7 linked regions of the Homo sapiens genome follow. The protein of the gene in region 1 purifies or fractionates together with the protein of each later gene. This does not show direct contact. Each region holds a gene or a part of one and is shown in the gene's direction. Other genes may lie near its edges.

What was found.
Region 2: the proteins of NRG1 (region 1) and TMTC4 purify together in Homo sapiens (affinity purification with mass spectrometry; 3 studies listed by BioGRID and IntAct, with this or other methods). This does not show direct contact.
Region 3: the proteins of NRG1 (region 1) and TMEM63B purify together in Homo sapiens (affinity purification with mass spectrometry; 3 studies listed by BioGRID and IntAct, with this or other methods). This does not show direct contact.
Region 4: the proteins of NRG1 (region 1) and SLC25A23 purify together in Homo sapiens (affinity purification with mass spectrometry; 3 studies listed by BioGRID and IntAct, with this or other methods). This does not show direct contact.
Region 5: the proteins of NRG1 (region 1) and DNAAF5 purify together in Homo sapiens (affinity purification with mass spectrometry; 3 studies listed by BioGRID and IntAct, with this or other methods). This does not show direct contact.
Region 6: the proteins of NRG1 (region 1) and GALNT11 purify together in Homo sapiens (affinity purification with mass spectrometry; 3 studies listed by BioGRID and IntAct, with this or other methods). This does not show direct contact.
Region 7: the proteins of NRG1 (region 1) and LARGE2 purify together in Homo sapiens (affinity purification with mass spectrometry; 3 studies listed by BioGRID and IntAct, with this or other methods). This does not show direct contact.

The regions. Positions count from the first base shown.
Region 1 is NC_000008.11:32,768,311-32,771,428, forward strand, and holds part of NRG1 (pro-neuregulin-1, membrane-bound isoform isoform HRG-alpha proprotein), read left to right. Parts: 3' UTR 1-3,118. UniProt on the Homo sapiens protein: Direct ligand for ERBB3 and ERBB4 tyrosine kinase receptors. Concomitantly recruits ERBB1 and ERBB2 coreceptors, resulting in ligand-stimulated tyrosine phosphorylation and activation of the ERBB receptors.
Region 2 is NC_000013.11:100,603,125-100,605,960, reverse strand, and holds the end of TMTC4 (protein O-mannosyl-transferase TMTC4), read left to right. Parts: intron 1-818; coding exon 819-967; 3' UTR 968-2,336; downstream 2,337-2,836. UniProt on the Homo sapiens protein: Transfers mannosyl residues to the hydroxyl group of serine or threonine residues.
Region 3 is NC_000006.12:44,137,554-44,141,053, forward strand, and holds part of TMEM63B (mechanosensitive cation channel TMEM63B), read left to right. Parts: intron 1-926; coding exon 927-964; intron 965-1,913; coding exon 1,914-2,056; intron 2,057-2,154; coding exon 2,155-2,206; intron 2,207-2,698; coding exon 2,699-2,807; intron 2,808-3,474; coding exon 3,475-3,500. UniProt on the Homo sapiens protein: Mechanosensitive cation channel with low conductance and high activation threshold. Osmosensitive cation channel preferentially activated by hypotonic stress.
Region 4 is NC_000019.10:6,446,293-6,449,792, reverse strand, and holds part of SLC25A23 (mitochondrial adenyl nucleotide antiporter SLC25A23), read left to right. Parts: intron 1-3,500. UniProt on the Homo sapiens protein: Electroneutral antiporter that mediates the transport of adenine nucleotides through the inner mitochondrial membrane. Originally identified as an ATP-magnesium/inorganic phosphate antiporter, it also acts as a broad specificity adenyl nucleotide antiporter.
Region 5 is NC_000007.14:761,199-764,698, forward strand, and holds part of DNAAF5 (dynein axonemal assembly factor 5), read left to right. Parts: intron 1-554; coding exon 555-698; intron 699-2,607; coding exon 2,608-2,776; intron 2,777-3,500. UniProt on the Homo sapiens protein: Cytoplasmic protein involved in the delivery of the dynein machinery to the motile cilium.
Region 6 is NC_000007.14:152,032,174-152,035,673, forward strand, and holds part of GALNT11 (polypeptide N-acetylgalactosaminyltransferase 11), read left to right. Parts: intron 1-3,500. UniProt on the Homo sapiens protein: Polypeptide N-acetylgalactosaminyltransferase that catalyzes the initiation of protein O-linked glycosylation and is involved in left/right asymmetry by mediating O-glycosylation of NOTCH1.
Region 7 is NC_000011.10:45,925,656-45,929,596, forward strand, and holds the end of LARGE2 (xylosyl- and glucuronyltransferase LARGE2), read left to right. Parts: intron 1-383; coding exon 384-496; intron 497-566; coding exon 567-692; intron 693-786; coding exon 787-942; intron 943-1,055; coding exon 1,056-1,216; intron 1,217-1,659; coding exon 1,660-1,938; intron 1,939-2,093; coding exon of another isoform or gene 2,094-2,264; coding exon 2,265-2,414; intron 2,415-2,521; coding exon 2,522-2,717; intron 2,718-2,876; coding exon of another isoform or gene 2,877-2,974; coding exon 2,975-3,190; coding exon of another isoform or gene 3,191-3,269; 3' UTR 3,270-3,441; downstream 3,442-3,941. UniProt on the Homo sapiens protein: Bifunctional glycosyltransferase with both alpha-1,3-xylosyltransferase and beta-1,3-glucuronyltransferase activities involved in the maturation of alpha-dystroglycan (DAG1) by glycosylation leading to DAG1 binding to laminin G-like domain-containing extracellular proteins with high affinity and in a phosphorylated-O-mannosyl trisaccharide dependent manner.

The DNA.
Region 1 (3,118 bases):
AGACTAATGAAAATGTCAACGTGCCATTCAATCACGAAAGGTAACGAAAAATGCTCTCATGGTTCAAATAGTCCAATGGCCCATAGTGGCCTAAAAGGCAGCCAGTTGACACCTGGCCATGCTAAGCTTCCTTATACCATCCGCTAATGACTTTCCATTGGGCCCACAATTTACGGATTCATAATTTTAAAAGAGGAGAAGGCCAAGTTAGGTTCATTCCCCTTATTCTGTCAATAAAACAAATCAAACTCATGTCTATCTAACTGCTCAGGGAGGAGCCTTTGCATGAGAAAATTCTCATATTCTAAGACTGAGTCATAGAAATGAGGGTATTACTTTTCTTACTGCAATTAACCTAAACAAAAGCCATATTTTAACAAATAGATATTTGCATGGTACCCTTCATATATTCCAAGCATTTCACTCATTATTCCAGGTAGGTTAAGAGCTTCTGAAGTGTATGAAGTAAAGGTCAGCAATCCTTTGGGGTGAACAGTGGCCTCCTTTGGAGTTTGGGGGTAACCTGAGACTTCCCACCAATGTCCACCTCCATCTGTGTACCTAATTCCTATTACCTAGTTATGGCTCCTCTAGGATCATTTCCAAACACTCTGGATGTCCAGGAAATTTAAATTGTAGCTTTTGACTGAGCTAGTTTTTCCTATTTATATTAATAAATTTTCAAAAATGCTTGAAATCTTCACATTTGCAACAACTTTAGTTTTCATGCACATACAAACACAGAGAGACAAAAATTCCAAACAGACACTCTCCAAAAGCCACCACACTCTTTCACTTGCTCTATAGTCATTTAGCCAACCAGCCATGCAGAGAATATTTAAAACTTAAAGATTGAGACATTATTCTCAGTTTTTGCTGAGGCTTTGTAACGAAATTGAACACTATAAGCAGCTATTGTAGTAATTTTGGTTAAAATTGTTTGCCTGGGATATAGTATTTGAGGCAGAAGCACGTGTGTGAAGGAGGTGAGGTGGTTTGGAAAGAGTGAAGACTCGCAGCCAGATTGAATGTCTGGATAATTACTATAATTCTCCCTTCTTGGTTGAAACCATGTTCTCTCTTGATTTTTAAACCCAGGCTGCCTCTGGAAACAAGCAAACCTGAGTCTTTCTAACCTGAGTCTTCCCAATCATTAGATTTCTTTTCTGTCCTAACGATGAATGATAAAAGGACTTGATGTTCACAATTTGGGGTTATAAGGCAGGTCTGAAATCTGGAGACTCAAGATGCTGGAAGGAGTGGAAAGTTTCGATGACTTTATATGAATCACTTTGCACTCTATGTTTGGCTTGTCCTCTTTGAAACTGATTTACTAAAATAAATGTAAGGGAACTATTACTCCAAAAGATTAACTTGGCAGGAAATACCAATACTTTCAGTTTATGAAAGACAAAACTGTCTTGTTGCTACAGGAAGCTGCAATGTTCCTAACCTTTAAGGTTGGTGTTGAATAGGGTGGTCATGCCCTCCCCTGCAGGTATCTTTAGGCTCCTGTTGACCTCCTGGTACTATAACTGTTCGTCTTCTCTGGGTAGCTATTGATTTTGAACTTTAACATGCTTCAAAACTTTATTCATCAGGGAAATAGGAAAAGAGTTTTGTTACCTGGAGGAAATCTATTGTGATCTACCTGAGCTTTTTAAAAACAGACCAGGAGAAGGAAACCAGTAATTTTTAAAGAAGAGACAGAGAATGGGATAATAGTTTCACCCAGGATCTCTTTCTAACCCTTTCCCTTCAAATGAACTTATTGGAACAGAATTGGAAAGAAGAAAGGACATCTCTGCCCACCCCACAGGATGCCAAAAAGGCTAAAGAATTACCTCTGTAGATTTAAACATCTTTAATGGCTTATGTATAGATTTGCTAATACAGAGAGAAATGAACTATTAAATAAAAATCACATTTTATAATATTTTTATGGCTTAAAACATCCTTTATCTCCTTTTTGTTCTCTCTACATGATATGGTAAGTGATGAGGAAAATTTAGGCTCAGGAAGGTTAAAATCTTTCTTGGAGTTACACATCTAAGAGAGCTGCAGAGCTGACACTTGTACCCAGGTTTTCTGACTGCAAATCCAGTTTCTTTCTATTGCGTTCTTCCCCTTTCCCTGCCTCAAGCAGAAACAGGTTTTTTATTTTCAACCTTTATGTATACAGTATGTTATGTTACATCTACAGCTAAGTTTCTTTTTAGAAGAATGTGAGCCCTTCTAGCTTTGGTTTAGAGTGATTCTAGAAGCCAATTTCCTTGGCTTAGTGATTCTATGCACCTTTCCTAAACTTAGCTTTCTAAGGAAATGAAGTGTACGAGTGAGAATGAATTCACAATTTCGACATGTAGGTAGCATCCTAAAGTGAAAAGAGGAGGAAATTTGTGGTCAAAGCACTCTCCCCACCACTTAGAAACTTACTGACTGTGGGCAGCTTCCTCCTCCAAGTTTCCTTCCTGATTTACAAGACCGTGGTGTGGTCAGGATTAAACTTGAATACATGTAAGGAAGCCTGAAAGTGTCTAACACATAGCGAGTATTCAAATGCCACCTTCTATTTGATCCTTCCCCTCCAGTTCCTTAAGTTTTGGAATCTAGGTTTCTCAGTTCCAAATGGATTGACATTTGCATATCCCCATTGCACAATGGATCAAATAAACTTTATGTTATCATTTCTCCAACATAGTGCCAGTAAGCAAATCCTTTTTAATAACAACAGTATGTTGAGAAACATATCACCAAATAATATTTAACTTTGTAGCTTTGATAAGTTCTTTAGGTTTTGGTTTTGGTTTTGTTTTCTGAGACAGGGTCTTGATCTGTCACCCAGACTGGAGTGCAATGGTTCAATTTTAGCTCACTGCAACCTGTAACTCCTGAGCTCAAGTGATCCTCCCACCTCAGCCTCTCAAGTAGCTGGGACTACAGGTGTGCTCCACCATGCCCAGCGATTTTTTTTTTTTTTTTTTTTTTTTTTTTTGGTAGGGACAAGGTCTCGCTATGTTGCCCAGGCTGGTCTTCAATTCCTGGCCTTAAGTGATCCTCCTGCCTCGGCCTCCCAAAGTGCTGGAATTACAGGCATGAGCCACCACCCATAACTTTA
Region 2 (2,836 bases), on another chromosome or scaffold:
CCCTTCCAGCCTGGTCTTCTGCTTTATATCCTCTTATGCCTTGGCTAAAATGCATTTATAATCATTTATTCCCTAGAATTCATTTCTTGCATTTGTATGTCTCCATAGTTAAGATGTTTAGAGCATAGCATTGTTGATGTTTAGAATGCTCACAGAAATGTTTTTTCACCAAAGCTGTTCTCTACCAACTCTGAAGCTTCTCTTCACAAAAGCCAAAAAGCGTCCACAGATGCTCTTCTGCCCATATAGAAAGTTAATTTTACTAACAAAATCACTGTCATGATCAGAGGCTAATCATCCTAATGATTAGGTTTACTGTAACTATCATTTTAGGGTCAGCTCTTGATATCAGAGGCCTTTTTTCTAAATGGACCCAAACAAGCTATTACTTCCCCAAATGGTGTAAGGAAATATTTAAAATAAACAGCTGAACTTCTGCATAGTCAGGGCTCTGGGCAGTGCCTAGCATCCATCACCCCCACCTCCCATACCCAGCCTTGCTTCCTGGAAATTTCATGGCAGCACTAAGACATTGCATGTACTCTTCTTTTTGCTTCTTTATGTAATAATGTTACTATAGGCAGATGTATCTTATCTAGTGCTATGAAGAGCCCTAGGAGTAACTGGCAGTAAATGGATAATCATCAGGGAGTGTGATTACAATAAATAGAGTTTTCAGTACAAACAATATTGTTTCATACAATTGACTTTTGAAAACTGTTTGCATAGGATCTGTAATATTTCTTTGTCCAAGAGGGTAGGAATACGGCACGTTACTCAGAAGCATTCCCAGTGAAATTTATCTCCTGCTATTTCAGCTGTGCTTTATCATCGTTGGGGACATCTAGACTTGGCCAAGAAACACTATGAAATCTCCTTGCAGCTTGACCCCACGGCATCAGGAACTAAGGAGAATTACGGTCTGCTGAGAAGAAAGCTAGAACTAATGCAAAAGAAAGCTGTCTGATCCTGTTTCCTTCATGTTTTGAGTTTGAGTGTGTGTGTGCATGAGGCATATCATTAATAGTATGTGGTTACATTTAACCATTTAAAAGTCTTAGACATGTTATTTTACTGATTTTTTTCTATGAAAACAAAGACATGCAAAAAGATTATAGCACCAGCAATATACTCTTGAATGCGTGATATGATTTTTCATTGAAATTGTATTTTTTCAGACAACTCAAATGTAATTCTAAAATTCCAAAAATGTCTTTTTTAATTAAACAGAAAAAGAGAAAAAATTATCTTGAGCAACTTTTAGTAGAATTGAGCTTACATTTGGGATCTGAGCCTTGTCGTGTATGGACTAGCACTATTAAACTTCAATTATGACCAAGAAAGGATACACTGGCCCCTACAATTTGTATAAATATTGAACATGTCTATATATTAGCATTTTTATTTAATGACAAAGCAAATTAAGTTTTTTTATCTCTTTTTTTTAAAACAACATACTGTGAACTTTGTAAGGAAATATTTATTTGTATTTTTATGTTTTGAATAGGGCAAATAATCGAATGAGGAATGGAAGTTTTAACATAGTATATCTATATGCTTTTCCCCATAGGAAGAAATTGACTCTTGCAGTTTTTGGATGCTCTGACTTGTGCAATTTCAATACACAGGAGATTATGTAATGTAATATTTTACATAAGCGGTTACTATCAATTGAAAGTTCAAGCCATGCTTTAGGCAAGAGCAGGCAGCCTCACATCTTTATTTTTGTTACATCCAAGGTGAAGAGGGCAACACATCTGTGTAAGCTGCTTTTTAGTGTGTTTATCTGAAGGCCGTTTTCCATTTTGCTTAATGTAACTACAGACATTATCCAGAAAATGCAAAATTTTCTATCAAATGGAGCCACATTCGGGGAATTCGTGGTATTTTTAAGAATTGAGTTGTTCCTGCTGTTTTTTATTTGATCCAAACAATGTTTTGTTTTGTTCTTCTCTGTATGCTGTTGACCTAATGATTTATGCAATCTCTGTAATTTCTTATGCAGTAAAATTACTACACAAACTAGCATGAAAATGTCATATTGCCTTCTTAATCAATTATTTTCAAGTAGTGAACTTTGTATCCTCCTTTACCTTAAAATGAAATCAAACTGACCAAATCATCATTTATGTGGCTTCTGTGTGACTTGGGGACCATTTCATAGAATGGCACTACAGTGTTTTCCAAGTTCAGAGAACAGAGCGAGTAGATCCACACTGAGAGGAATGTGATTCTCTGGACTCACGTGTTGGGGGCAGGTCTGTGTAGTGTTTCAGTCAGTGATTGTAACTTCTGGTGTTTGAAATGTATCAAGAAATAAAGTGCTGTGTTTAAAATATTTCTTTTTTTTTTTTTGAGATGGAGTCTTGCTCTGTCTCCCAGGCTGGAGTGCAGTGGCACCATCTCAGCTCACTGCAACCTCCGCCTCCCAGGTTCAAGCGATCCTCCTGCCTCAGCCTCCCGAGTAGCTGGGATTACAGGCGTGCACCAACATGCCCGGCTAATTTTTGTATTTTTAGTAGAGACGGGGTTTCACCACGTTGGTCAGGCTGGTCTCGAACTCCTGACCTCAAGTGATTCACCCACTTCGTCTTCCCAAAGTGCTGGGATTACAGGTATAAGCCACCATAACCAGCCTTCAAATATTTCTTAAATGGTCCCAAAACAACAGTAGTAATTTATAGCTCTCTTTAGTGGCTAAGACCATCTTCCTCTTATTTATGTTCCTATAGTGCTTCACTTGTCATACAATAGATGCATTATATGCTTTGTTGATTTTTTTTTTAAAGCAAACTTCTTTTTTTGAAACAGTACTTGTCTATTGAGAGTAATCACA
Region 3 (3,500 bases), on another chromosome or scaffold:
GGCACCTTTCTACCCCATCCTGTGTTATGTCTGGACCTTCTGCTGGATGGAGTTTGGGGCAGGGTGCCCTCTGCGCAGCCCTCCCCTGAATATCCCCATTCTCTGCCTTTACATGCCTGGAGGGTGGAGGGGAGAGATTTTTTTTTTTTTTTAATTTTTCCCTGAGACAGAGTCTTGCTCTGTCGCCCAGGCTAGGGTGCAGTGGTGTGATCTCAGCTCACTGCAACCTCCGCCTCCTGGGTTCAAGCAATTTTCCAGTCTCAGCCTCCCAAGTAACTGGGATTACAGGCGCGCACCACCACACCCAGCTAATTTTTGTATTTTTAGTAAGAGACGGGGTGTCACCATGTTGGCCAGGCTGATCTCGAACTCCTGACCTCAGTTGATCCGCCCGCCTTGGCCTCCAAAAGTGCTGGGATTACAGGCGTGAGCCACCGCACCTGGCCGGAGGTGGGGAGATACCTTGCAGCTCATAGTGACCCTGGGCTTTTGTCCTTCTGGGGTAGACTAGAGGATAAATAGCTGGAATTCAGGCAGCAAGGCCCTCTTCTCTGCTTTTGGCAGCCATGTTGCAAACTTATTAGCCGGAGGTCTGGAGGTCCTGCTAACCTTAGAACCCCAAGCCCCACCCATCCCACCCTGGCCCACACAGCCACAGGGTATTTGCAGAAATCTGTAGATCTGGACATGGGGATTCACAGATAAACCTGTTTAGTGTTGGTCTTTTTTCTTTGAGGGCTGAGACCTTCCCTCTCTCTCTCCCTTTTTGGGTATAAGCTAGTTCTGAGGGTATAAGGATTTTTTTTTAGTGAGGGGTGTGGAAGCTATGCCTGGAGGTAATTATGAGAATGGGTGGGACTTGAGGGAGGAGAGAGGTTCGGGTTGGTGGGCTGGGGACTCCCGCTGACAGCCCTCTGTTCCCCCAGGGTTTCTGTTCCTGGCTGACAGCCATCTTCAGGATAAAGTAAGTGGACCATCTTCAAGCTCTAAAGAAAGAGAGAAACTTCAGAACCTGGCATCTCCCTACAAAATTCAGAAGCCAGCAGCTTTCAGGGCCTTAGCACTCCTCGCCAGCACAGCACCCTCCTCCCTGCTCTCAAAGGCCAAGCCTCGGGTGCCTGAGCCTCTGCTGTACCCTGAACACTCACTTGACCCCATAATCTCCTCTGTGACCCCCTGCCGGCCCCCCCGCTTCTCTCCCTGCCCTGCCCCACCTTGAGGGAGGGGGTGGAGCCCCTGCCTCAACCTCTGTGCAGCCAGTGAGTGGGGGCAGCAGTAGGCTGGGAGCAGCCAGCCAGCTGCAGGCAGAACTCAGGAGATCCAGCCAGAGTCCAGCAGGCAGGCAGTGAGCGCTGAGAAAGGCAGGAAGCCAGGACAGGTCAGCACTGCCGCCACCACTCCCCCAGGCCTCCCCCAAGGGTACCCGGGCTTCACTACGCCAGGCTCAGCCACACCCATGAGGTGCTGCTGCCCCTCCTCCCATCCTTCCTTCACTTCTGCCTCTTTCACCACTCCTCCTCCTGCTGGTCCTCCTCCTCTCTTGCCTTCCTCCCTCCTCAGATATTTCTCTTTTTTCTTCCCTTTTCTCTGCATTCCTCATTTTTCTTCTTCCCCTTCCTGTCTCTGCAGTCTCTTCTTTCTTTTACCTATCTTTTCCTTCTAGCCCTCTGCCTTCATCCCTCCCCTTCTCCATGCATTTCTCCTTTTTCTCCCTCCCCCTCTCTTCTCCCTTTCTCCCCTCTCCCTTCACAGAAAATAGGGGACCAAGAAGTCCCATTTCAGCCCTATACTACTGCCAGATCAGCTGGAGCTAGGGTGGGTTTGGGGTGGGAGTGGGTGAGGGCAGGCAAGTTGCAGCCCCCTTCTTGCCCTGGTCCTAACCTAATTCCTTTGTCCAACCCGTATGGCTGCAGGGATGATGAGATCCGGGACAAATGTGGGGGCGATGCCGTGCACTACCTGTCCTTTCAGCGGCACATCATCGGGCTGCTGGTGGTTGTGGGCGTCCTCTCCGTAGGCATCGTGCTGCCTGTCAACTTCTCAGGGGACCTGCTGGGTCAGTGAGGGCCAGGACGGCTAGGGTGGAGAGAGGATGGGGCTGGAGGGGATGTGCCCTGACCCCACCATCATCCTCTCCCTCTTCCCACCCCACAGAGAACAATGCCTACAGCTTTGGGAGAACCACCATTGCCAACTTGAAATCAGGGTAAGATGCGAAGCTGGTCGGCCAGGCCAAGGTCTACGACCAGAGTCTGGGCCATGATGTGGGACAGGGAGGAAAGGCAGCTGCGTTGATGGGAGCAGAGCCTACAGGGATGGCTATGGGTCCCTGAGGGCTTGGGTTGGAGACAGAAGAGGGAAATGCCTGCTGAGGATCCCCCAAGGATGAAGAGGATACAGAAGAGGAGGGTGAAATCTCAGGAACCAGGGAGGGCCAGCTGGGGCAGTTGGAGACACTGTAACCAGTGGGTAGGGCGTAGAAAGGTGACCTATCAGGGATATTTTCATTGGAATCGAAGAATTTTGGTGTCTAGGGGATGTGGGATGTGGGCCTGCCTTGCGAGGAGTCAGTGCCAGAAGGCTGGTGGCAGTAGAGGGCCCTGTCTGTATCAAGGGTTTAACACTGACAGGCTGAGGTGTCTCCTCTGAGTGTGTCCTAGCCCCAGTGGCTCCCATGTATCCTCTCTGCTTCTCCCAGGAACAACCTGCTATGGCTGCACACCTCCTTCGCCTTCCTGTATCTGCTGCTCACCGTCTACAGCATGCGTAGACACACCTCCAAGATGCGCTACAAGGAGGATGATCTGGTGCGTGGAGCAGAGCCCAGGTCCTGCCCCATCCCCAGCCTCTTCCCTTCCCTTCCCTGCAGGCCTCTTTTGTCTCAGCCCCAAGAGGTGTCAGCTAGGTTTGAATGCTGGCACAGCAGCTCAGGAGCTCCCATCCTGCAAGTTACATAACCTCCCAAGCCATGATTTTCTCATCTGTAAAATGGAATAACAACAGTACCTCCCCCAAGGTTGTGGGGAATACACAGAAACAGCCGTGCTGTGCCCAGCACTTGGGAAAATAGCAGTGGCTGATCCTAGGATAGTAATATTCCTTCCCCTTCTACATGCACTCACCAAGCCAGAACCGGACACCTACTCCATGCCAGCCACTGTGCTGGGTTCTCAGGGTCTAAGGAGCTGAAAGTAGTACCCCCTTCTGCCTCTATAACCCCTCAAGAGCATGGGACGGCGTGGCTCTTTTGTTAGGCTCACTGCCTGATTTCTGTTGGAAACACTCCCCTGCTTTCCCTGGGACCTGGCTTATCCATAACTAAGGCCTCCTCCCACCCCATCTGTTCCCCTCTGCTCACCTACTTCTCTACCCACTCAAAACAAAGCCTCTTTCTCTAGTGCCCCCCACCCCTCACATCCCCTGGCTCCACTGGGGTCAAGCCTCAGAAGGCAAACCCACTCCCCTGTCACCCAGGTGAAGCGGACCCTCTTCATCAATGG
Region 4 (3,500 bases), on another chromosome or scaffold:
GGAGGCCGAGGTGGGAGGATTGCTTGAGCCCAGGAGTTCGAGACCAGTCTCTATAAAACAATTTAAAAATTAGCCAGGTGGCCAGGCACGGTGGCTCACGCTTGTAATCCCAGCACTTTGGGAGGCCGAGGCGGGTGGATCACAAGGTCAAGAGATCGAGACCATCCTGGCCAACATGGTGAAACCCCATCTCTACTAAAAATACAAAAAATTAGCCAGGCATGGTGGCGGGCACCTGTAATCCCAGCTGCTTGGGAGGCTGAGGCAGGAGAATGGCATGAACCTGGGAAGCGGAGCTTGCAGTGAGCTGAGATCGTGCCACTGCACTCCAGCCTGGGTGACAGAGCAAGACTCTGTCTCAAAAAAAAAAAAAATAGCCAGGTGTGGTGGTGCACACCTGTAGTGCCAGCTACTCAGGAGGCTGAGATGGGAGAATTGCTTGAGCCCAGTACGCAGAGGTTTCAGTGAGCTGTGATCATGCCAATGCACTCCAGCTTCAGCAACAGAGCAAGATCCTGTCTCAAAAAAAAAAAAAAAGAAAGAAAGAAAGACAGAAAGAAGACACAGTCTTATTATTTAATGCATTCTTTACCCAAAAAGGGACTTTAAAAGTCTAAGAGGTTTTAGAAACCTTGGAGTTTCAAAATCTGTGTTTGTCCCTTAAAGGCTCCGAGAAGTCTCTCAGTAAAGTGATTTAACTTTTTTTGTTTTTAACCCAGTGCTGGCCACATTAATCTAGTCTTTAGAACTTTTTTTTTTCTTTTTTTTTGAGACAGAGTCTCACTCTGTCACCCAGGCTGGAGTGCAGTGGTGTGATCTCAGCTCACTCCAACCTCTGCCTCCCAGATTCAAGCAATTCTCCTGCCTCAGCCTGCCGAGTAGCTGGGATTACAGGTGTGCGCCACCACGCCAGGCTAATTTTTGTATTTTTAGTAGAGACGGGGTTTCACTATGTTGGCCAGGCTGGTCTTGAACTCCTGACGTCAAGTGATCCGACCACCTCGGCCTCCCAAAATGCTGGAATTGCCAGGTGCAGTGGCTCACACCTGTAATCCCAGCACTTTGGGAGGCTGAGGGGGGTGGATCACAAGATCAAGAGATCAAGACCATCCTGGCCAACATGGTGAAACCCCATTTCTACTAAAAATACAAAAAATAGCTGGGCGTGGTGGTGGGCACCTGTAATCCCAGCTACTCGGGAGGCTGAGACAGGAGAATCGCTTGAACCCAGGAGGCGGAGTTTGCTGTGAGCCAAGATCGCGCCACTGCCCTCCACCCTGGGTGAGAGAGCGAGATTTCATCTCAAAAAAAAAAAAAAATGCTGGGATTACAGGCATGAGCCACCACACCCGGCCGTCTTTAGAACTTCTTTTCAACAGATTGATCTTAATAATAACCCATTAAACATCTATTTGGCAAGTGCTGTTCTAGACCCAAAAGAAGGCTTCTAAAATTTCAAAGGCAATAATGTTAAGTACTTGCCTATTTTACCCAGTCTGTGCCTGGGCTAGGCATTACTAATCCATCACAGCACTGAGTCCTGCTCAACACAATTCCAGTTTCAGGCAGCAATTTCTGGTGGATTAGAATTGGCATAGGAAATGAAACCTATAAGCCTCTCCCAGCCGCAAAGCAAAGAAGGTCTTGTTCTTACAGTCACCTTGGCAGAAGGCTTCAGAAGGGATTAGCCACCCTAAAGTCTTCAGGTGCACAGTTCTAGATTCACATACAGCTGTGAATGTTGGTTCTCACCTTTATTTTGTAGCTTTGGGCAAGTAACTTCCCGAGCCTCAGTTTCTTTTCTATAAAATAGAGATAATAGGGCCGGGCATGGTGGCTCACTCCTGTAATCCCAGCACTTTGGGAGGGAGAGGCAGGCAGATCACTTGAGGTCAGGAGTTGGAGACCAGCCTGGCCAACATGGTTAAACCCTGTCTTTACTAAAAATACAAAAATCAGCCGGGTGTGATTGTGTGTGCCTGCAATCCCAGCTACCTGGGAGGCTAAGACAGGAGAATTTCTTGAACCCGGGAGGTGGAGGTTGCAGTGAGCTGAGATTGTGCCGCTGCACTCCAGCCTGGGCGACAGAACGAGACTCCGTCTCAAAAAAAAAGCAAAAAATTAGCCAAGCCTGGTGGCACATGCCTGTAATCCCGGTGGCATAAGCCTGTAATCCCAGCTACACAGGAGGCTGATGCAGGAGAATCACTTGAACCTGGGAGGTGGGGTTGCAGTGAGCCGAGATGGTGCCATTGCACTCCAACCCAGGCGACAGGGTGAGACTGTGTCTCAAAAAATAATAATAAAATAAAAATAAAGATAATTAGCCGGGTGTGGTGGTGCACAGCTGTAATCCTGGCTACTCCAGAGGTTGAAGTAGGGAGGATCACCTGAGCCCAGGAGGCGGAGGTTGCAGTGAGCCGAGATTTCACCACTGCACTCCAGCCTGGGTGTGAGAGCGAGACCCTGTCTCAATAATAATAATAATAGTTTTGGTCTTAGTTTGAGATCCTTCCAAAACAGACCCTGAAACTGGGACGTGAGGACAAGTGATTTATTGGGGAGGTAATGAGACAGGGAGTCAATGCACACAGTATGAGTATGTTAGTTTCCTAGGACTGCTGTAACAAAGTATCACAAACTGGTTGGCTTAAAACAACAGAAAGTTATTGTCTCACAGTTCCAGAGGCCAGAAGTGCAAAATCAAGGTGTCAGCAGAGCCATACTCCCTCTCAAACTTGTTAGGGGAGAATCCTTCCTTCCTTCCTTCTTTCAGTTTCTGCTTGTTCCCAGCAACCCTGGACATTCTTTGGCTTGTAGATACATTCACTCAAATCTCTGCCTCCGCTGTCACCTGGCTGTCTTTCTCCGTGTGTGTCTCTGTCTTTCTCCTCTACGGACACCAGTCATACTGGACTAAGGGTCTACCCTGTTACCCTACTCATCTTAACTAATTAGATCTGCAAAGACCCTATTTCCAAAGAATGTCACCTTCTAAGATACTGGGGGTTAGGACATCAACATGTTCCCCCCCAAAGGAGGGACATGATTCAACCCGTAACAGTATGTTATCAAGCAAGTTACTATTCCTAGCAAATGGAGTTCCAGCCCTCTAGAGATCTGTGGGAGGCAGCATAAGACATGCTGCACCAGAGAGATGAGGGAGCTGGGGTATTGATCCACCAGGTCAGTCTTTTGAAGGTTGCATCTGGAGATGCTAATTTCCCAGGGCTTTCTGCCCATTCCTAAGTGGTCAGAGCCGGCTGGCCTGCGTTCAGAGAAAGTCCACAAGCAAAGTCTTTGGGTAAATGTTGGCAGTAAGAAGTCAGCAGGTCTGAATTGGAGTGGGAAGGGATGAAGGTGGTGTACTCACAGCATCTACCACAGGCAGTGTCGTTGGAGAGTGTTTTTTTGTTCATTTGTTTGTTTTTGAGACAGTCTTGCTCTTATTGCCCAGGCTGGAGTGCAGTGGTGTGATCTTGCCTCGCTGCAACCTCCGC
Region 5 (3,500 bases), on another chromosome or scaffold:
TCAACAAGCACGCCCTTTTATGGTTGACATGCCGGCACCCTACCTCCAGCGCCTGGGGGCTCTCCCTGCAAGGGCTCTCCCATGGCTGCTGCCCCTCGTGAGCCGTAGACTAGGAGCCCCGGGCGGGCTCTGTCGGCCCTGACACTGGGGCCGGAGCGGGAGCCCTGTATTAGTCCATTCTCATGTCGCTAATAAAGATCTACCACAGACTGGGTAATTTATAAAGAAAAAGAGGCTTAATGGACTCAAAGTTCCACATGGCTGTGCAGGCCTCACCATCATGGTGGAAGGCAAAGGAGGAGCAAAGTCACGTCTTACGTGGCGGCAGGCGAGAGAGTGTGCAGGGGAACTGCCCTTTATACTAACATCAGATCTCGTGAGACTTAATATCAAGAGAACAGCACGGGAAAGACCCACCCCCATGATTCAGTTCCCTCCCACAGGGTCCCTCCCAGGATACGTGGGGATTATGGGAGCTACAGTTCAAGATGGGATTCGGGTGGGGACACGACCAAATTGTACCAAGCTCTGACGGTGCTGCCGGTCTCTTCCAGGACCTCTACCTGGAGCGCCTGCTGCTGTGTGTGCAGGCTCTGGTGTCTGTGTGTCATGAGGACTGTGGCGTGGCCAGCCTGCAGCTCTTGGACGTGCTGCTGACAATAGTGGCCCTCGCAGGTGCTACCGGCCTGAGGGACAAGGTAAGGCTGACAGTGGTGGCTGCTGCTTGACCTAGCGGAGCTCACAGCTGGAAGGCATCTCTAAGTGAGGTGAACTGTCTCCTATGCATCCCCTCTGTGCTTGACCAGCAAAGACCAGGGATTGAGAACCTTGCGGGTGAGTCCCCGGGCAACGGCCTTCGGGGCAGCTCTCCAGCTGCCAGTGTATTCTGGCATCAGGGAGTGGAGACAGCTGTTTAATGTTAGGGTCTTCAGCAAAGAAGCAAACAAGAAATAAGACGTAACCTTTAAACCTGCGCACTTGAGTAGGGTTTAATAGTGCACATGTCGCTGGGCGTGGCATCTCACGCCTGTAATCCCAGCACTTTGGGAGGCCGAGGTGGGCGGATCACCTGAGGTCAGGAGTTTGAGACCAGCCTGACCAACATGGTGAAACCCCGTCTCTACTAAAAATACAAAAAATTAGCCAGGCGTGTTGGCATGTGCCTGTAGTCCCAGCTACTCAGGAGGCTGAGGCAGGAAAATTGCTTGAACCAGGGAAGCAGAGGTTGCAGTGAGCCAAGATCGTGCCACTGCACTCCAGCCTGGGCTGAGCAACAGAGCGAGACTCCGTCCAAAAAAAAAAAAAAGTGCATGTGCATGTGTGACTGAGTCGAGAGAAGATACCGTGATTTCCCGCTCTCATTGCAGCACAGCGTTCAGAAGTACTTCTCGCCCATGGGCTCCCTGTTTATGCCCAAAAATCATCTTTTTTCTTCAGTGGAGTCTCGCTCTGTCACCCAGGCTGGAGTGCAGTGGCGCGATCTCGGCTCACTGCAACTTCTGCCTCCCAGGTTCAAGTGATTCTCCTGCCTCAGCCTCCTGAGTAGCCGGGATTACAGGCGCCCACCACCATACCCGGCTAATTTTTATATTTTTAGTAGAGACAAGGTTTTGCCACGTTGGCCAGGTTGGTCTCAAGCTCCTGACTGCAGGTGATCCACCTGCCTCAGCCTCCCAAAGGGCTGGGATCATAGGCATGAGCCACCGCACCTGGCCATTATGCCCAAAAATCTTTTAACCCCAACCTTCTAATGGGCTTCTAGGGCCCCTGGAGGCCCCAGTATCTGTCTGCCTCTCTGGAAGCTGAGACTTAGTTCCTCCTCCCATTCTGTCTCTGTGGACAGCCCCTCTCGGCAGATTCTCTCTCTGGGAGATTTACGGCCTGAATGTACTATGGGGAACCTGGTGTGGAGGAGGCTGCTGCCCTCCCCTTCCTTCTTGGGGCCTCTAAAAACAAGCTTCCCAAGGGGCGTGTGTCTCAGCAGATGCTGTCACTGTTAGGGCCTGAGGTACCAGCAAAAGCAAAGTCTTTGCCTGCTGGTCATGGGGGACGAAGCCAGGTAGCCCCAGATTCAGACTCCAGGCTTGGGGCAATGGCCACCGGGGAGCCTCAGCCCTTCCTCTGTTCCTAAGCCCCCAAGGAGAGCAGCCAGCTAAAAGTAAAAGGTGGCCAAGGTTATCATCTCTGTCTGCCCAGTTACTTTTACCTGGAGGTCTGGTCTGCTGGGCTTAACTCTTTAAGCCACTTGCCCGCCCCTCTCTGCTCCTCACCACCTCAGAGGAGCCCTGCCTGCCCAGGCGGACACCACGTCCGTGTAAGCCCCAGGACCACCTGTGCTGTGTGCATCCCAGTGTGCACAGTGCCTGCTTCATGATTCGCTGCAGAGACGGCGTTGGTGTGAACGGGATCAGGGTCTCGCCCTGCACCCGCGGCTCTCGCTCTCCTGCACCCTGGGCGGGGCTCCCTGTGGCAGCCTCCCTCCCGATTATCCTGGCAGGCCCGGCCTGTGTGGTTCTTACGCGTGAGGGGGATAGTGAGTCCCAGCAGGCAGGCAGGCTTGAGCCCTGAGTGTTGGAATTGTCTCAGTCTCTGACTTGTAACCTCCAGGCACAGGAGACGATGGACTCACTGGCCATGGTGGAGGGTGTCAGCAGCTGCCAGGACCTCTACCGCAAGCACATTGGTCCCCTCCTGGAGCGGGTGACCGCGTCGCACCTTGACTGGACCGCACACTCGCCGGAGCTCCTGCAGTTCAGTGTCATCGTCGCACAGTCAGGTGAGCCGTCCCGACAGCTGGCGTGCCGTGCCTGGCCCCACTCAGGCTACACACCTGCTCCCCCAGGTGCTCAGCAGGTACCAGCGCCGACCAGCTGAGCTGTGGTTCACTGAAGCGTGTTGTTAAAAGTACCCAATAGTCACTCTTGCCTGGGGAGAAGCAGCATTTTAAGGAGCATCGCATTGAAGACTGTGGGACGCAGCTCTTCCACTTGGCCCGGGCACACGCTTTCATGTGAAACCTTCAAAGTGTGCTTTTCCGTGGCCTGTTTTGTAGCCTGGCTTCTTAAATACGTCTGGATTTTGTTGCAGAATCTAGATGTCTAGCCGCATGGGTGCTGTGTGTGTGACATGGGGGCCTTAGCCCCAGCCCCTCTGAGACCAGCATTTCTGTGGTTCTCTTTGAGCCTGCGGATCAGCCACTTTTCCTGGGATGGACAGTGTGGCCCAGTGGGGCTTCAGCGCGGGGCAAGATCCACTGCAGAACCCTAAGGAGACGTCCGCTCAGCAGCCATAGTGCCTTGGGACACACGGCCCGCGCTGCTCCACGGGCCGTGAACTCGCCGCGGTAGCTCTTCCTCGTTTGCCTCCCCGGCCCTCCCGCTCCCGCCTGCAGCTCCGAGTGCCCCCGCCTCCTGTTGGATGTGTGCACCAGGGTGGTCGTGCTCTGCATCTGAGGATGCTAAGATCGTTCTTACACAATCTCTGTGCCTGGTAGGGACTCA
Region 6 (3,500 bases), on another chromosome or scaffold:
AGAGTGCCTGGACTTGAGAAGTGGCCTAGATCTTGGGCCAGTGCCTGACCAAACAGATGAGGGCTATCCCTAAACCCTTGGGGCAAGACGGTCCATATAAGTTGGGATGTGTGGTCTGTGGGATCCTCAAAGGCAAAGAGAAACTGGGAGTCATGGGAGTCATAGTGCAGGGGAATACAGAAGAAGGCATCCTTGAGGTCCAGAACAGGGAACCATTCTGCTTCCTCTGGTATTTGAGAGAGCAGGGTATAGGGGTTGGGTACAACTGGATATAGAGGAATTACTGCCTCACTGATGAGTCTAAGATCTTGCACTAGACTCCACTGACCGTTCGGTTTTTGTACTCCTAGAATTGGGGTGTTGCAGGGACTGCTGCATTTCTTTACTAAGCCTTGAGCTTTTACATGTTTAACAATATCCTGTAATCCTTTATGAGCTTCAGGCCTTAAGGGATATTGCCTTTGATAAGGAAATGTGGTGGGATCTTTTAACCTGATTTGGACTGGGCAGGCATTTTTTGCCCTTCCAAATTGTCCTTCCAATGCCCAGACTTCAAGGTAGATTCCTTCCTCAAGTAGGTGACACCAAATGGGTAACTTGTTCCCCATATTCATGTAGATAATAGCTCCAGCTTTGGCTAACATATCCCTCCCTAATAAGGGTGTGGGACTTTCAGGCGTGACAAGAAAGGTGTGTGAAAAGAGCAAAGTCTCCCAATTACAACTGAGAAGGTGGGAGAAATACCTGGTTACAGGCTGTCCCAGGATTCCTCGGATGGTAATGGACCTTGAGGACAGTCGTCCGGGACAGGAGATTAACACTGAGAAGGCCACGCCAGTGTCCAGGAGGAAGTCAATTTCCTGGCCTTCAATGGTTAAATGTACCCGGGGCTCAGTGAGGGTGATGACATGAGCTGGCGCTTGCCCGAGGCACCCTCAAGTCCTGTTGTTGGATCATCTGGTTGGGGGCTTCTGACCCAGAGAACCTTTGTCCTCCGGGGCAGTGCGCCTTCCAGTGATTGCCTCGGCATAGCGGACATGGATGAGGGGGTGGCTTGTTTCTCGTTGGACAATCTTTTTTAAAATGTCTTTGTAAACCACACTGATAACAAGCCCTACCGGGTGATTGGCCTGCTCCATTTTCTGTCCTTTCTGAACCACCAAAGGTTTGTTTGTCTGAGGGCCATGACTAAGGCTGCAGCCTTTCTCTGATCTCGCTTTTCCTTTTGGGCCTGTTCCTCTTGGTCCCTATTATAGAACACCAAGGTTGCCAGGTTTAATAATGCCTCCAGATTTTGTTCAGGGCCCAGGGCTTGCTTTTGGAGCTTTCTCCTGATATCCACGGCTGATTGGGTAACAAACTTATATTTTACAATCAATTGACTCTCAAGTGAGTCTGGTGACAGGGGAGTACATTTTCTTAAGGCCTCCTGTAGCCACTTAAGGAAGGCAGAAGGATTTTCTTCCTTTCCTTGAGTTATGGTAGACATCATTGAATAATTCATGGGCTTTTTCCTAATTCTCCTTAGTCCTTCTAGAACACAGGTCAACAGATGTTTACGACTCCAGTCCCCATGATCTGAGTCAAGGTCCCAGTGGGGATCCATACTGGGGATGGCTTGCTTACCAGTAGGGAATTTGTCCCTTTCTTCAGCTGTCATTCTGCCATTTACTTGACTAAGGTACCAGGTATCTCCAAACTCTCAGGCTGCAGCTAAAGCCGCATTCTTTTCATTAAAGGCCTGGGTTTGATCTAACAGTAGCATGACATCTCTCCAAGTGACATCGAAGGTTTGCCCTAGACCATGTAGGACATCTGTGTACCTATCAGGATCATCTGAAAACTTACCCAGGTCTGCCTTGATCTGCTTTAAATCAGAGAGGGAGAAAGGGACATGTACCCTAGTTGGGTCAAATTCCCTCTCCCTACAACTTGAAGGGGACATAACCGATAGCCCAGGGGTTTTTGTGGTTCTTTGGAGATTTCTTTGCTTATTTCCTTCTGGGCAGGGGAGATTAGAGGAGGCTTATCATTAATAGGAAGGGTAGCTATAGGGAGGATAGGATATGGGGGTAAGCTGAGAGGTCCTCCTATGGGATGTAAATTGCAAACTTTGCATAGTTGTGTATTCTCCTTCAATGAAAAGAAAGCTTGGACATAAGGTGTTTCACTCCATTTGCCTTCCCTCTTACAGAAAAGGTCAAGCTTCAGGATAGTATTGTAATTTATACTTCCCTCAGGTGGCCATTTTTCCCCATCAGAGAGAGAATATGGGGGCCAGGCCATAGTGCGGTAAAAATGAGCCACCTCTTTTTCAGGGTTTGCGGGTCAAATTGGTCCCAGTGGCTTAGGATGCATTTCAAGGGTGAGCCTGTTGATGCCTGATTGTTTCCCATCTGAAAGACAAAACCGCCCGCAGTTTTGGTTTGTTTGTTTCTCCCCCTGCCCAAGAACCCACAATGGTCCCTGAACCCTGCTGATCGGAATAGTTGCACTCACCGATGCAGCAGCAGAAACACCTCTTGCCCAAGAACCCACAACGGTCGGTCCCTGGACCCTGCGGATGGGAATAGTTGCACTCACTGACGCAGCAGCAGAAACACTAGTTTTCCTCCTAGACCACAAGGAGGACCGAGGAAGGTCGGATTTAGTGGCCCTTACCAATGCATTCTCAAAAATCTGCACCCTTGCCTGTCCTCCTAGACCACAAAGAGGACCGAGAAAAATTGGATTTAGTGGCCCTTACTGATGCATTCTCGAAAACCTGTTAGGGTCCTAAGCATTCTCCAGTTAGTATTGGGACTTTACCCCTCCTGTAAAGATGTTATGCCCCAAAAATGAAGTGGAGGGCCATATCCTGAGGGAGGGGAGGGATCTCCAGAGTTGGAAGAGTGATGCCTTTTTGTCCGCACTTATATGAATACAAGAATGTCATTTCTGAAGCTCCCCGTATCCTAGCTTCTGGAATAGCTTTTGTTAGGCCTGCTAGTCTGAGGAGGGATCCTAAAATTCCGGATAAGACAGTCCCCCACCCTGATGGGGCTTTGGGCAAAAATTATGTCTTTCTAATTGGTGAGCCCGGGTGCCTAAAGAAGGTTAACAGAGTCCTGGAGTTTATACTAGAAATGATTCTTACAGGAGAAACTAGAAAAGCACCAGAGACAGGGAGTGGTTTCCAGAAGCGGGACTAGCCTCAGAGAAGAGAGGCAAGAGAAAGTTTTTCTGACAAGCATTAGGACCCAGGAGGCAAGGGTCAGGATAGGTAGGATAGATGGGCGAGTCTCGCTTGGGCAACATGACTTCGAGAGTTCTGCTCATGGCCACAGGGTCAACCAACTTGTTGTCAGGACCCCGGAGCTGAATGGCTTTCCTCTCTGTCGACCCTCGGCTCAGCCCGGAAGTACAGGAAAAGCGGAAAGCTGGTTCCAGGCAAACCAACACTCCCAACTCCGAAGAGTCAGGGGTTGTTAGAGAGCCCTATCCCGGAAAGCCTGACACCC
Region 7 (3,941 bases), on another chromosome or scaffold:
ATACATAAATAAGTAAATAAATAAAAAATAAGTAAATAAATAAAAAGGATAGGTGTGGTGGCATGCCTGCAGTCCCAGCTACTCGGTGGGGGTTGTGGTGGGGTGCTGAGGTGGGAGGTTTGCTTGAGCCTGGGAAGTCGAGGCTGCAGTGAGTCATGATTGTGCCACTGCACCACTCCAGCCTGGGTGACAAAGCAAGACCCTGTCTCTAAAAAACAAAACAAAACAAAACAAACAACAACAACAAAAAACAAGTAGTCCATGATCATGTCTGAACAGTCAGAAAATACCAATGTCAAAAAACAAAGGACACCTTCATGACCCCCATGTCCCCCAGGAGCTGGTCGTCCCAGGTGGGCATGACAGCATCTCTTCATTGGCAGGTGTGATCCTGCTGCGGCTGGACCGGCTCCGGCAGGCTGGCTGGGAGCAGATGTGGAGGCTGACAGCCAGGCGGGAGCTCCTTAGCCTGCCTGCCACCTCACTGGCTGACCAGGTCTGAGGAAGCCTTGCCGGGTGGGGTGTGGCAGGCTGGGGGCTGGGATGTGATGGGTGTCTCTGCTCAGGACATCTTCAACGCTGTGATCAAGGAGCACCCGGGGCTAGTGCAGCGTCTGCCTTGTGTCTGGAATGTGCAGCTGTCAGATCACACACTGGCCGAGCGCTGCTACTCTGAGGCGTCTGACCTCAAGGTGAGTGGGACAAGAGGCTGTGTGGTGGTGGGGGGCCATGGATGGAGACTTCTGCTCCCTGCTCCCATGGCCCCAACACCCTCCTGGGTCCCAGGTGATCCACTGGAACTCACCAAAGAAGCTTCGGGTGAAGAACAAGCATGTGGAATTCTTCCGCAATTTCTACCTGACCTTCCTGGAGTACGATGGGAACCTGCTGCGGAGAGAGCTCTTTGTGTGCCCCAGCCAGCCCCCACCTGGTGCTGAGCAGGTGAGAAGGAGTCACCTTCCCCTGCCCCTCTCTGCTTTGGTGGGACCCAGCCTTGTCTGGGGGATGTGTTGTTCTGCCCTATCCCCGGTCCTTGTCACCCCTTGCCCCCTCAGTTGCAGCAGGCCCTGGCACAACTGGACGAGGAAGACCCCTGCTTTGAGTTCCGGCAGCAGCAGCTCACTGTGCACCGTGTGCATGTCACTTTCCTGCCCCATGAACCGCCACCCCCCCGGCCTCACGATGTCACCCTTGTGGCCCAGCTGTCCATGGACCGGTGAGGGTGCAGAGGGCAGCCCAGGGGGTATGGCATGGGCTGGGGTTGGACACTTCTGAGAGGAGGTTCCATCTGGCAGCCTGATGCTGTGGTAGTGAGCTACCTGTCCCTCAGGGAGTTCCAGAAGTTGGAGACATTGGATATGGTGGAAAGAGCTTGGGCTCTGGAGTCATTCAGATGCCCGGAGCTGCCCCTCGGTCGCTGTGGGACCATGAGCAAGTCTTCATATCTCTGGCCCCTAGTTTTCTCTCTCAAATGAGAAAGTACCCACCTGGTGGGGGTAGTTGTGAAGATTCAATCAGACTGGCTCTAAAAGTATTTGAAGGGTGCTCAGTAAGTCACTTGAGGAGGTGGCAGCAGCAGCTAACTGGGGAGGTTTGCCAGGCCTCCCTGAGCTCCTGTGCAAGAGGGGCAGAGCTGTGCTGACCTCCCTCTCCCCATAGGCTGCAGATGTTGGAAGCCCTGTGCAGGCACTGGCCTGGCCCCATGAGCCTGGCCTTGTACCTGACAGACGCAGAAGCTCAGCAGTTCCTGCATTTCGTCGAGGCCTCACCAGTGCTTGCTGCCCGGCAGGACGTGGCCTACCATGTGGTGTACCGTGAGGGGCCCCTATACCCCGTCAACCAGCTTCGCAACGTGGCCTTGGCCCAGGCCCTCACGCCTTACGTCTTCCTCAGTGACATTGACTTCCTGCCTGCCTATTCTCTCTACGACTACCTCAGGTGGGCCTGCAGGCAGAGAGGGGAACAATATATGGGGTGGACGTGGACGGGGCATGCGTGGGACCCCAGGCTTCCATGTCCCTGCTCCTTTCTGGGCCTCAGTGGCCTCTGTCAATTGGGGTTTGTATTAGGCTGTTTCTCTGGGCTGTCAACAGGGAGGCCAGGGCCGGCTTCAACAGCAGCTCCACCTGTGGTTGTGCCCACCCGTCGCATCAGGCAAGATGGCCCATGGTGGTCTAGTCCTGTGGCTAATGCCCTGATGAGTGTCACTGGCCCAGTCCTAGATGCCCCGCTCTTCTCCCCTGCTCATGGGTGCTCCTCCTCAGGGCCTCCATTGAGCAGCTGGGGCTGGGCAGCCGGCGCAAGGCAGCACTGGTGGTGCCGGCATTCGAGACCCTGCGCTACCGCTTCAGCTTCCCCCATTCCAAGGTGGAGCTGTTGGCCTTGCTGGATGCGGGCACTCTCTACACCTTCAGGTAGGAGAGGCTACTTCTCTGCCCACTCCACTCACTTGCCCACACTGGCCCCCACTACCCACGAGCTCCTAGCCTCAGCCTGGCTCCCACCCGACCCTGCTGCACAGGTACCACGAGTGGCCCCGAGGCCACGCACCCACAGACTATGCCCGCTGGCGGGAGGCTCAGGCCCCGTACCGTGTGCAATGGGCGGCCAACTATGAACCCTACGTGGTGGTGCCACGAGACTGTCCCCGCTATGATCCTCGCTTTGTGGGCTTCGGCTGGAACAAAGTGGCCCACATTGTGGAGCTGGATGCCCAGGTGAGGAGGGCACCTTGCTGCCTCCACCTTTGACTCGAGCACCTCCAGGTCCAGGGAACTCACGACACCTGCATGGGGGACCACACCACTAGGCAACACTGTTAGAAATGTCCCCCTTCTGTGGAATTAAAATAATCTGCCCTTTGGCCCTTGCTTTAGCTCTCAGGGGCTACAGGGTAAGCCTGTTCTCTGGAGCTGCACCTTCCCCGCAGGCCAGGCAAGCCAGGCAGCCACTGCTCCTCTGCCCCACCCTGCAGGAATATGAGCTCCTGGTGCTGCCCGAGGCCTTCACCATCCATCTGCCCCACGCTCCAAGCCTGGACATCTCCCGCTTCCGCTCCAGCCCCACCTATCGTGACTGCCTCCAGGCCCTCAAGGACGAATTCCACCAGGACTTGTCCCGCCACCATGGGGCTGCTGCCCTCAAATACCTCCCAGCCCTGCAGCAGCCCCAGAGCCCTGCCCGAGGCTGAGGCTGGGCCGGCGCTGCCCCTCATCTTAGCATTGGGCAGACACCAGGGCAACCTGCCCTCCGCCATCCCTGCTATTTAAATTATTTAAGGTCTCTGGGAAGGGCTGGGGCAGAGCATCTGTGGGGTGGGGTCTTCCCCTTGCTGCTATTGTATGGCTGGGGACTGGTCTCTCTCTGCCCCAGCCAGTTTGGGGCTGGTTCCCCCATCTTGAATTGTTTATCCCTTTTTCATAATTAAAGTTTTAAAACATCTTTTTTGTGTTCCTGGTTTGGGGGAGCAAGGGCACTCTGGGGCTAGGGCGTCAGTGCACAAGGGAGGTGCTACATCCAGCTGGGGTCACAGGAGGGCCTGGGCCCTTAAGGGCAAGCACCCCCCCGCCCCCCACCCCCAGACAGCCAGTCAGGGAGGGCAGAGGCTGGGACTGGAATGTGTCCTGCCCACCCTCCCCTGCCCCAAACCCAACACCATGAGGCTGAGAGGCTTTATTTGGCTTTATTTAGTAAAATGTTAAAATAAATAAATACAAATTGATCAGCTGCTCTGTATCCCCCCCCACCCCCTCAAAACAAAAACCAAACAAACAAAAACAAAAACTTTGAAGCACAAAACTCCAAATACAAGTCTACCAAGACTGAAATCACAAAGGGCATGGACAAGAGACAGGGTTGGGGTCTGGCTGGCTCTTCTCTGCTAGGAGCTGGCTGACCTCTGGCCTGCCCGTCCCATCCCGCCTGACTGCAGCTCACCCTGG